Linked DNA regions of Homo sapiens: region 1 is linked to region 2. A link means that fine-mapping ties the variant in region 2 to the expression of a gene that starts in the linked region. Tissue or cell type: uterus. Region 2 holds a variant in brackets; the other region holds the start of a gene. All regions are shown on one strand. Distances are from middle to middle. Region 1 holds the start of POFUT3 (protein O-fucosyltransferase 3). Region 2 overlaps POFUT3 (protein O-fucosyltransferase 3).

Evidence for each region. PIP is the estimated chance that this variant, and not a neighbour inherited with it, causes the effect.
Region 1: it holds the start of POFUT3, and the variant in region 2 is fine-mapped to the expression of POFUT3 in uterus (GTEx, PIP 0.96).

The regions. Positions count from the first base shown.
Region 1 is chr8:33,470,914-33,475,314 of GRCh38, reverse strand. POFUT3 (protein O-fucosyltransferase 3) reads left to right here and starts at 2,169. Exons shown (of 5, transcript NM_032664.3): 1 at 2,169-2,251. RefSeq lists silencers at 2,060-2,139, 2,430-2,669, 3,900-3,949 and an enhancer at 2,990-3,199.
Region 2 is chr8:33,417,860-33,422,260 of GRCh38, reverse strand. All of the region lies in intron 3 of POFUT3 (protein O-fucosyltransferase 3), which reads left to right. Among named protein-coding and RNA genes, the nearest start is that of POFUT3, 53 kb to the left of the region's middle. The variant C/A (reference allele first, on the strand shown) is at 1,779.

The DNA of each region.
Region 1 (4,401 bases), 53 kb before region 2:
CGACCGTGCCCTGCCGAGGTGTGTTTTATGGCCCAGTATACATGCCTTTTGATGTTTATATATAGGTATGTGTATTAGGCCTATACCTAGGAATTTCTGGGTCACAACGTGTATATTCAGCTCTAGTAAATATGAACAGATGATTTTCCAAAGTGGCTGTCACAACTGCACCCCCAACAATAGTGCATAACAGTTCTATGTGCTTCACGGCTTTGTCCTTGTGTTGTCTTGTCAGTTTTAAAATCTGTAGCCATTTTAGTGGATGTGTAGTATATATCATCATCGTGTTCATTTGCATTTCTTTAATGACTAAAAACATTAAGCATCTTTTTCACATACTGCCTGGCTATTTGGATTCGTCTTCGGTGAAGTGCTGTACTTATTGATTGCTTTTCTTTCTTATTGCTTTTAGGAGTTCTTGTTATATTCTAAATTCATTGTTAGATACAATATATCAAAAATACCTTCTCTCATTCCGTAGATCAGTTTTCATTCTTTTTCTTTCTTGAGACAGGATCTAATCCTGTTGCCCAGGCTGGAGTGCAGTGACACAATCCTGACTCACTGCAGCCTTGACCTCCCAGGGTCAAGCAATCCTCCCACCTCAGCCTCCTGAGTGGCGGAAACCATAGGCGTGCACCACCACACCTGGCTAATTTTTAAAAATTTTTCGTAGAGACGGGGTCTCCCTATGTTGTCCAGGCTGGTCTCCAACTCCTGGGCTCAAGTGATCCTCTCGTCTCAGCCTACCAAAGTGCTGAGATTACAGGTGTGAGCCACTGCACCCATTTCTTATTTTCTTAATGGTGTCTTTTGATGAATAGAGTTTCTTACTTTTAATCATATCTAATTTATCAATCTTTTCTGTGTGTTTGATGTTTTTTAGATGTGGACACCATTATTATCAACCTGTTTTCATAGAAAAGTTGAGTTTCTTGGCACCAGAGCTCCGCAGGGTCGGGACCAGAGGGAGGCAGGCCCGAAACAGCAAATCGCTCTCAGGCTTCTGCAGTGCACCCAGCACTGCAGGACACCCAGGGTCAGCACCTCCTCAGATTTTGAGCCCTAAGTACCTCATTTGCCTTGCCCTAGACCCACCCCTCCCAAAATGCTGAATTACCTCCTTAGGTTTATTACCTCCTAGACTAGGGCACAATAATTTTATTTGAGTTTTTGGATTTGGAACTCAGTAGCTTGAAGTCAATTAGCTTTCCTTTACCAGTGTCTAGTCCGTTTGGGCTACTATCACAACACACCTTAGTTTGGGTAATGCATGAACAACGGAACTCCACTGCTCCCAGTCTGGATGATGGGAAGTCCAAGATCAACAAACACGCTGGCAGATTCCTCATCTGTTAGCGTCTGTGCCTCATACAAGAGACCCTCTATGTGTCCTCACATGGCAGAAGCTTGCTCTGGTCTCTTTCATAAAGACACAGTACATTTGTAAATTTATATAGACTATAAAGGCACGAAATTCACATATGAATTTGGGGCAGGGTACAAACATTCACACCATAGCAACCAGTACAATCTTTTCTTGAATAAATGACTTTGACCTTTTTTTTTAAATTTATTTTATTTATTTTTGTAGACAGTCTTGCTCTGTTGCCCAGGCTGGAGTGCAGTGGCTTGATCTCGGTTAACTGCAGCCTTTACCTCCTGGACTCAAGAGATCCTCCCACCTCAGCCTCCCAGTAGGTGGGACTACAGGCATGGGCCACCACACTCTGCTAATTTTTGCATTTTTTGTAGAGACAGGGTCCCGCTATGTTGCTCAGGCTGGTATCGAACTCCTGGGCTCAAGCGATCTGCCCGCCTTGGCCTCCCAAAGTGCTGGGATTACAGGTGTGAGCCGCTGCCACGCCTGGCCTGAATAGGTGACTGCATGCGCTCCAGTCCTAGTCCAGTTGGAGAAGCGGAGAGTTTCCCCTGTCTTAAAGAAGAGGGCCCCCGCAGCCTTCCCGAGAACTTTCCATAGGGCCGTGGCCTCAGGCGGACTGCGAACCAAGATCATCAGCAGGGGGCGGCCCGGTGTTCTTAGAACCCGGGTCCCAAGAGCTTGTGAACAGGGCACGAGTGAAAACCCGGATCCAGGCTGGCTCCGCCGGAACGCGCCCCGAGCTCGCCCGCGCGGCCGCCTCTTCCGCTCCTGATCGGCTCTTCGGGTCTTCCCGGCGCCCAGGCTTGGGCTCATAGGGAGAAAGGAAGCTGCGCTGCATTCTGCGGGACGAACCCTGCTCCGCGCGAGGTGAGTGCGAGCGCCGCATCACATCTGGCCTCTGTGGTCTCTTGGTGGGGGTAGGGGCTTGATGCTGAGACACGGAAAGACGCTTTTCTGGTCCCACGGAAGCTGGGACACTACCTCCGGGAGTCACAGCCTAAGGAAACTCCCTCTCTGTACCGAGCAGGGGGTGCGTGTAAGAGACGGAATGGTGTGTGCAAAATAATCCAAGTCTGTTTTGGAGACTTAGTGGCGCAAAGGCAGAGCCACTGCCTGAGATTGAAGCCTGATCCACCAGGCGGGAGGCGGGTGCCGGGCCGGAGCCTCTGCTGGAGCCCGGAGAAGGAGCGCGGGGTCCCGGCGCCTCCCCGCCTGCCCCGATCGGCCTCCTCCCCAGGTCCGCGGCCGTCCATTCCAGAACCTAATCTGCCTTTGCGGGGCGCGAATTGCCTTGTTCTCCCCCAGGTCTTCCCAGAGAATCACTTGTTGCAGGAATGTTGTGTTGAAGTCGTAGCAACTGTGACTTTCTAGTTGCAGAGAATACGGCGTATTTAATGGAGAAAATGCCCCAGGAAAGCACCGGCAACCGCAGGCCTGGGTTATCCCATTTGCAAGCCATGTGTTAGGTATTTTGCACCCGATTAGTACCCTCAGAACAGAGCTCATTTTTTGTAAACTATAGAAGTAATTTTTCTGTGATTTTATGACATTTTCTGGGAATCTTTTAATGATTCTTTAAAATAAAGCAAATGTCACACAGAATGACTTTTTCTAACACCACGGCCCCAACAGCCTGCCCCCTGCTCCCTGCTGCAGCTCCCTGCAATAATAGTTGGTTAGAGTGTTTTGTGCATGAAATGACTTGGATTGTTAATTTAGTTTGTGGAATGCATCCAGCTCTGGCTGGCCACAGTTTTGAATAAGGCAAGTTGGCTTTCAGGACTTTATTCCCTTCGTACACCTTTCTTTCCAATGAGACACCCAGGAAACTCACGACCAATCTTGGGCTTGTTAGTAACGTCACACTACAACTAGGGCAGGGTTTCTCCCTGGTCTACCGTAGTCTCAAATGGAGGCCTTTCTCGCATTGAATAAGCAGCTCAGCTCTTTGAACGCTGAAGTTTCACTGCCTCCAATCTAGCAGCACCGTAGTCTCCGTTTTAAAACTTTCTTCTGAGTAAGGAGAAGCCAGAGGCGATTGGGTAGCCTCAGGTGATCATTCAGGTCTTCCAATTTCGAAATTGCTGTAATAACTCTTGCTCGCTTCCTGCTAGATGGCAGTGTGTAACAGTGAATTAAAAACACGATCTCAACTTTTACTGTGTTGTTATTGCTTGTCTTCTACAATAAGAAAAAAAAGTAAGTTTTCAAGTTTTATCTTACAAACAATATTTTTGAAAAATTTCAAACTATGGTTAAATTCAGGAAGTAAAAAGAATATAGTTTGGAAAAACAATGTTATTTATATATGTACAAATGTTGTTCAGTAGGCAGATATTTCCAACCCATATTTAAATGCTTTAAACTTTGGAATGTAGGCCGGCCGGGCGCGGTGGCTCATGCCTGTAATCCCAGAACTTTGAGAGACCGAGGCGGGCGGATCACGAGATCAGGAGTTCTAGACCAGCCTGGCCAATATGGTGAAACCCCGTCTCTACTAAAAATACAAAAATTAGCTGGGCTCATGTGGTGGCGTGTGCGTGTAGTTCCAGCTACTCGGGAGGCTGAGACAGAACAATCACTTGAACCTGGAAGGAGGAAGTTGCGGTGAGCCAAGACTGCGCCACTGCACTCCAGCCTGGGCAACAGAGCGAGACTGTCTCAAAACAAAACAACAACAACAACAACAACAAAAAACAAAAACAAAAAAACCAACCTCGGAATGTAAAGAGTTGATTTCGGGTAGATATTCAATATCTAATTCAATTACCAGCATTCTACAGTGAACATTTGTTACAATGTTTCTGAACATGGGTTTTTGAACATTTTTAGAAGTTAAGTTTATCTTAAAATGTCTTTCAGATTTTTTTCTTTGATAATGAAATTGGAGTTTTCAAAAGATTATACAGAATTACCAACAAGGAAAATGAAGATAAAGTAATCCTAAACCTGTTATATACAATTAAAAAAAAAATTTCCGGAAATCTTACTTTGTGATGACTCAAGTTGTCTGGATT
Region 2 (4,401 bases):
TGGAAACCGAAAACTGTTGAAGTCAAGGGGAAACAAGGCGCACTTCCTCTGTTATCTAGTAGCAAAGGAAGAACATCTTGGAACTGAACATGTGTCAGAATTTTGGCAGGGAGAAATATGTGATTTTATCAAAAAGTAAATAATGCTGAGGAAGAAAATACATTCTTCTCATTGCAAAGAAAAGACTGTGAGGGAAAAGCAGGGTTTTTTTTTGTTTTTGTTTTTGTTTTTGTTTTTGTTTTCTGTGTGGTTGTTTTTTTTTTAGACAAAAACCATTTGATCTAGGGAAGTTGGCCTAAAAAGTTTGTTCTTTTTTCCTTTTAGGAGGTGATGGAAGGCATCAAGGTGGGCCTTTCACCCATTAATCTCTCCATTTTCCCCTCCAGAAATGATTTAGATTCTATAATCTGTGTTGATTTGTCCATATTCATTAGAGATTTGGCTTGGGCAGTTATTAATGATGACAATGATCACTCTCCTTTATGGCATTTCATGCTTAAAAGAATACTTCAGACTGCCTCCAAATAACAAAACGAGTTCTGAACAGTCATTGCCAGACTCACTTAATGTTCCTTTGAGCATCCACCGCATATCAGACTTCTGTCCAGCACTGCATTTGATTCGAGGCATGTACAGTACTCTCAAGGAGTCAAAGACAAACAGATGGGTTCTTTCCCTCAAGCGAATAAACATTTGTTTAGAACTCAGACACATTTCCCCATTAATCAAGATCAGGTTCCAAGGCCCTCCCATTAAAACCTTTTGAATCCATAACGAACCATCCTATAAAACTAGTAGCCTTGCCCTGAATTCTGGGTCGTAGGTCATATCCTAATAGGATATGACCACATGGAGGAGATGGAAGATCCAAGAAGAGAGAATATGGCATTTGAAGATTTAGTTAAATTTCTAGTTTATGAAATTCAAGATGCTTGTCCCACAAAGTGACACTAGAGGGCAGTGCATATAGCAAAACCTTGCAATGGAACAAGACTGAATTCCCATTTCCAATTAATGCTTTTTAAAATTCAAATGTCAGCTCTGAAGTCTTTTCATTTCATTCCATAGATAAAGGGAAAATATATTCAAATTATATGTCATCATAAAAAATATCTTGAGGATGAAGAATTTTGTTAATATTTATCAAAGTAATAATTTGATAAAAATTTTAAAAATTAAATAGTATTAACATTTCTTTCACAAAAAGGAAGTTCTTGTCCCTTCTTCTTCCCACCTGTCTTTCCTATAGTGTCTTCTGAATTTACATTTGTATTTCTATTTAATATGAACATATATATATTTTTTCTTTTTTTAAATTTAATTTTCTCTTTTTAAATTGACAAATAATTTTACATATTCATGGGATACGTAGTGATGTTTTGATACATATAATGTGACCAGGGTAGTTAGCAAATCTATCATCTCAAACATCTATCTTTTTTTTTTGTATTGGGAATGTTCAATATCCTTCTGGCTATTTGAAACTGTATAATATATTATTGTTAACTATAGTCATCTTAGAGTGGTTTAGAACATGAGAACTTATTCCTTCTATCTAGCTGTAATTGTCATACTTATATTTCTTGAGGCAAGTGATTATTTGGTTTGTTTTTAATGAATTTCCCCAGATACATTTTTCTGCTCCCCCCAAATCTATCTAATGTAGTCCAATTTTATTACATCAGAAATCATTGTTTACAATGAGATGTTATAATTGAAACTTTTCATTTTGGCAATTTTCTTATGCAAACAAAACAGACAGAATGATATAAAGAATG[C/A]CCATTTAGTCTTCATCTAGCTTCAACAACCATCAGTCTTCTCATTCGTGTTTAATTATTCCCACACTGTCTCTTCCTCCTCTCAATTATTTTAAACAAATTTTAAACCTTGTCATTTCACCAGCATTGTTCATATTACTAAGACTTTGAAAATACTGCTCAACATAGAACCAGCAATTACATTTTTTTGTATATTTTATTTGTCTAAAACTAATAATTCTCTCTTAAATTTTTGTTAGTTTTTATTAATTACTTATCATTAATTTTATTTTAACAGTGTTCCATTAGATATATGAGACACACACATATATGTAATAAATAAGTACATACATTTTATTTATTTATTTATTTTTTGAGACAGGGTCTCAGTTTGTTTCCCAGGCTAGAGTACAGTGGCGTGATCATGGCTCACTGCAGCCTTGACCTCCATGGGTTCAGGTGATCCTCCCACCTCAGCCTCGAGAGAGGCTGGGATTGCAGGAGTGTGCCACCACACCTGGCTAATTTTTGTATCTTTTGTAGAGACAGGGTTTCACCATGTTGACCAGGCTGGCTTTGAACTCCTAGTCTCAAGGGATCTGTCTGCCTTGGCCTCCCAAAGTGCTGGGATTACAGGCTGAGCCACCATGCCTGGCCATAAACTTTAAATAAATAAATGAAGTTTAAATAAATAAATGAAGTTTAAATAAATGACCTAACATATTACATAATGTATCAACTTTATTTTTCCCCCAGAAAACATTGTTCTGCAGTCCCCATCCTCCTTCTTTTCTTTTTATCGATACATAATATTTGTACCCATTTATGAGGAACCTGTAATATTTTGTTACATGCATAGAATGTATAATGATCAAGTCAGGGAGTCATGGCATTTAAGGGACGGGTTCCCAACGTCAGGGCCTGTCCGTGGCCTGTTAGGAACCAGGCTGCACAGCAGGAGGCGAGTGGCGGGTGAGCCAGCATTACCACCTGAGCTCTGCCTCCAGTCAGCTCAGCAGCAGCATTAGATTCTCATAGGAGCATGAACCCTATTGTCATGCACATGCAAAGGATTTAGATTACTTGCTCCTTGTGAGTATCTATCTAATGCCTGATGATCTAAGGTGGAACAGTTTTATCTTAAAACCAATCCCCCACCACCCCAGTCTGTGGAAAAATTGTCTTCCATGAAACCAGTCCCTGGTGCCAAAAGGGTTGGAGACTGCTGATTTAAGGTATCTATCACCTCTACTATTCTATGTGTTAGGTACATTTCAAGTCTTCTAGTCTAGCTATTTCAAAATATACAATAATTTGTTGCTAACTGTAGTCACCCTACTCTGCTATCAAACACTAGAATTTATTCTTTCTACCTCATTCTGTGTTTGTACCAATTAAACAGCCTCTCTTTATCCACCCCACCCCCAACCTTCCCAGCCTCTGGTAGCTACCATTCTACTCTCTACCTCCATGAGATCAATTCTTTTAGTTCCCACATATAAGTGAGAACGTGTAATATTTGTCTTTCTGTGCCTGGCTTATTTCACTTAACCTAATAACCTCCAGTTCCATCCATGTTGCTGCAAATGACAGGATTTCATCCTTTTTAATGGCCGAATAGTATTATATTGTGTATATGTGTCATATTTGCTTTATCTGGTCATCCATTGGACACTTAGATTGATTCCGTATCTTGGCTATTATGAATAGTGCTGCAGTAAAGACGGGGGTGCAGGTGTTGCTTTGACATACTGAGTCCCCTTCTTCTGGAAAGATACCCAGCAGTGGGATTGCTGGATCACATGGTAGCTCTGTTTTTAGTTTTTGAAGAAATCTCCATATTGTTTTTGATAGTGGCTGTACTCACATTTCCACCAACAGTGTATAAGAGTTCCCTTTTCAGCTGGGCTTGGTGACTCACGCCTGTAATCTCAGCACTTTGAGAGGCCGAGGTGGGCAGATCACCTGAGGCCAGGAGTTCGAGACCAGCCCAGCCAACGTGGTGAAACCCTGTCTCTACTAAAAATACAAAAATTAGCTGGGCGTGGTGGTGCGTGCCTATAATCCCATCTCAAAAAAAAAAAAAAAAAAAGAGTTCCCTTTTTTCCCACATCATCACCAGCATCTGTTATTTTTTGTCTCTTTAATCTTAGCTGTTGTAACTGGCATAAGATGATACACATTGTGGTTTTGATTTGCATTTTGTCCTCCAGTTGGGTGAAAGTGCGTGGAGGCTGTGCTATGGTTCAGCGGTGGTGGTTGTGGGGCCAGTGGGATCATTGTCTGTGGCTCATGCTTTGGCCCCAGGGCAGCAGCCAGCAAGGGGGATATCACTGGGGTGCCACAAATATGGAACTGCAGGGGCTGTTGGATTCCAGTGTAGGATGCAGTCTGCTGGGGGCTGGGGGCTCAAAATGGTGCGTTGCTGTAGCCGCTTAGGTTTGGGCGTGGGTTGGACCCCGGTGTGAGCTCCCTCTCTGAAACAGTGTGGTCATACAGTCTCCAGACAGCTCCCAGTGTTAGTATCAGGGCACGTGAGGGTGAGGTGCTGTCGCATGGCTAGGATTGCGGGAGTTCAGAGTGGGAATGTGGACCCCTGGGGTTCTCTCCGCAACTCCTTCCTTGCACTGGGGAGCCTCTCTGG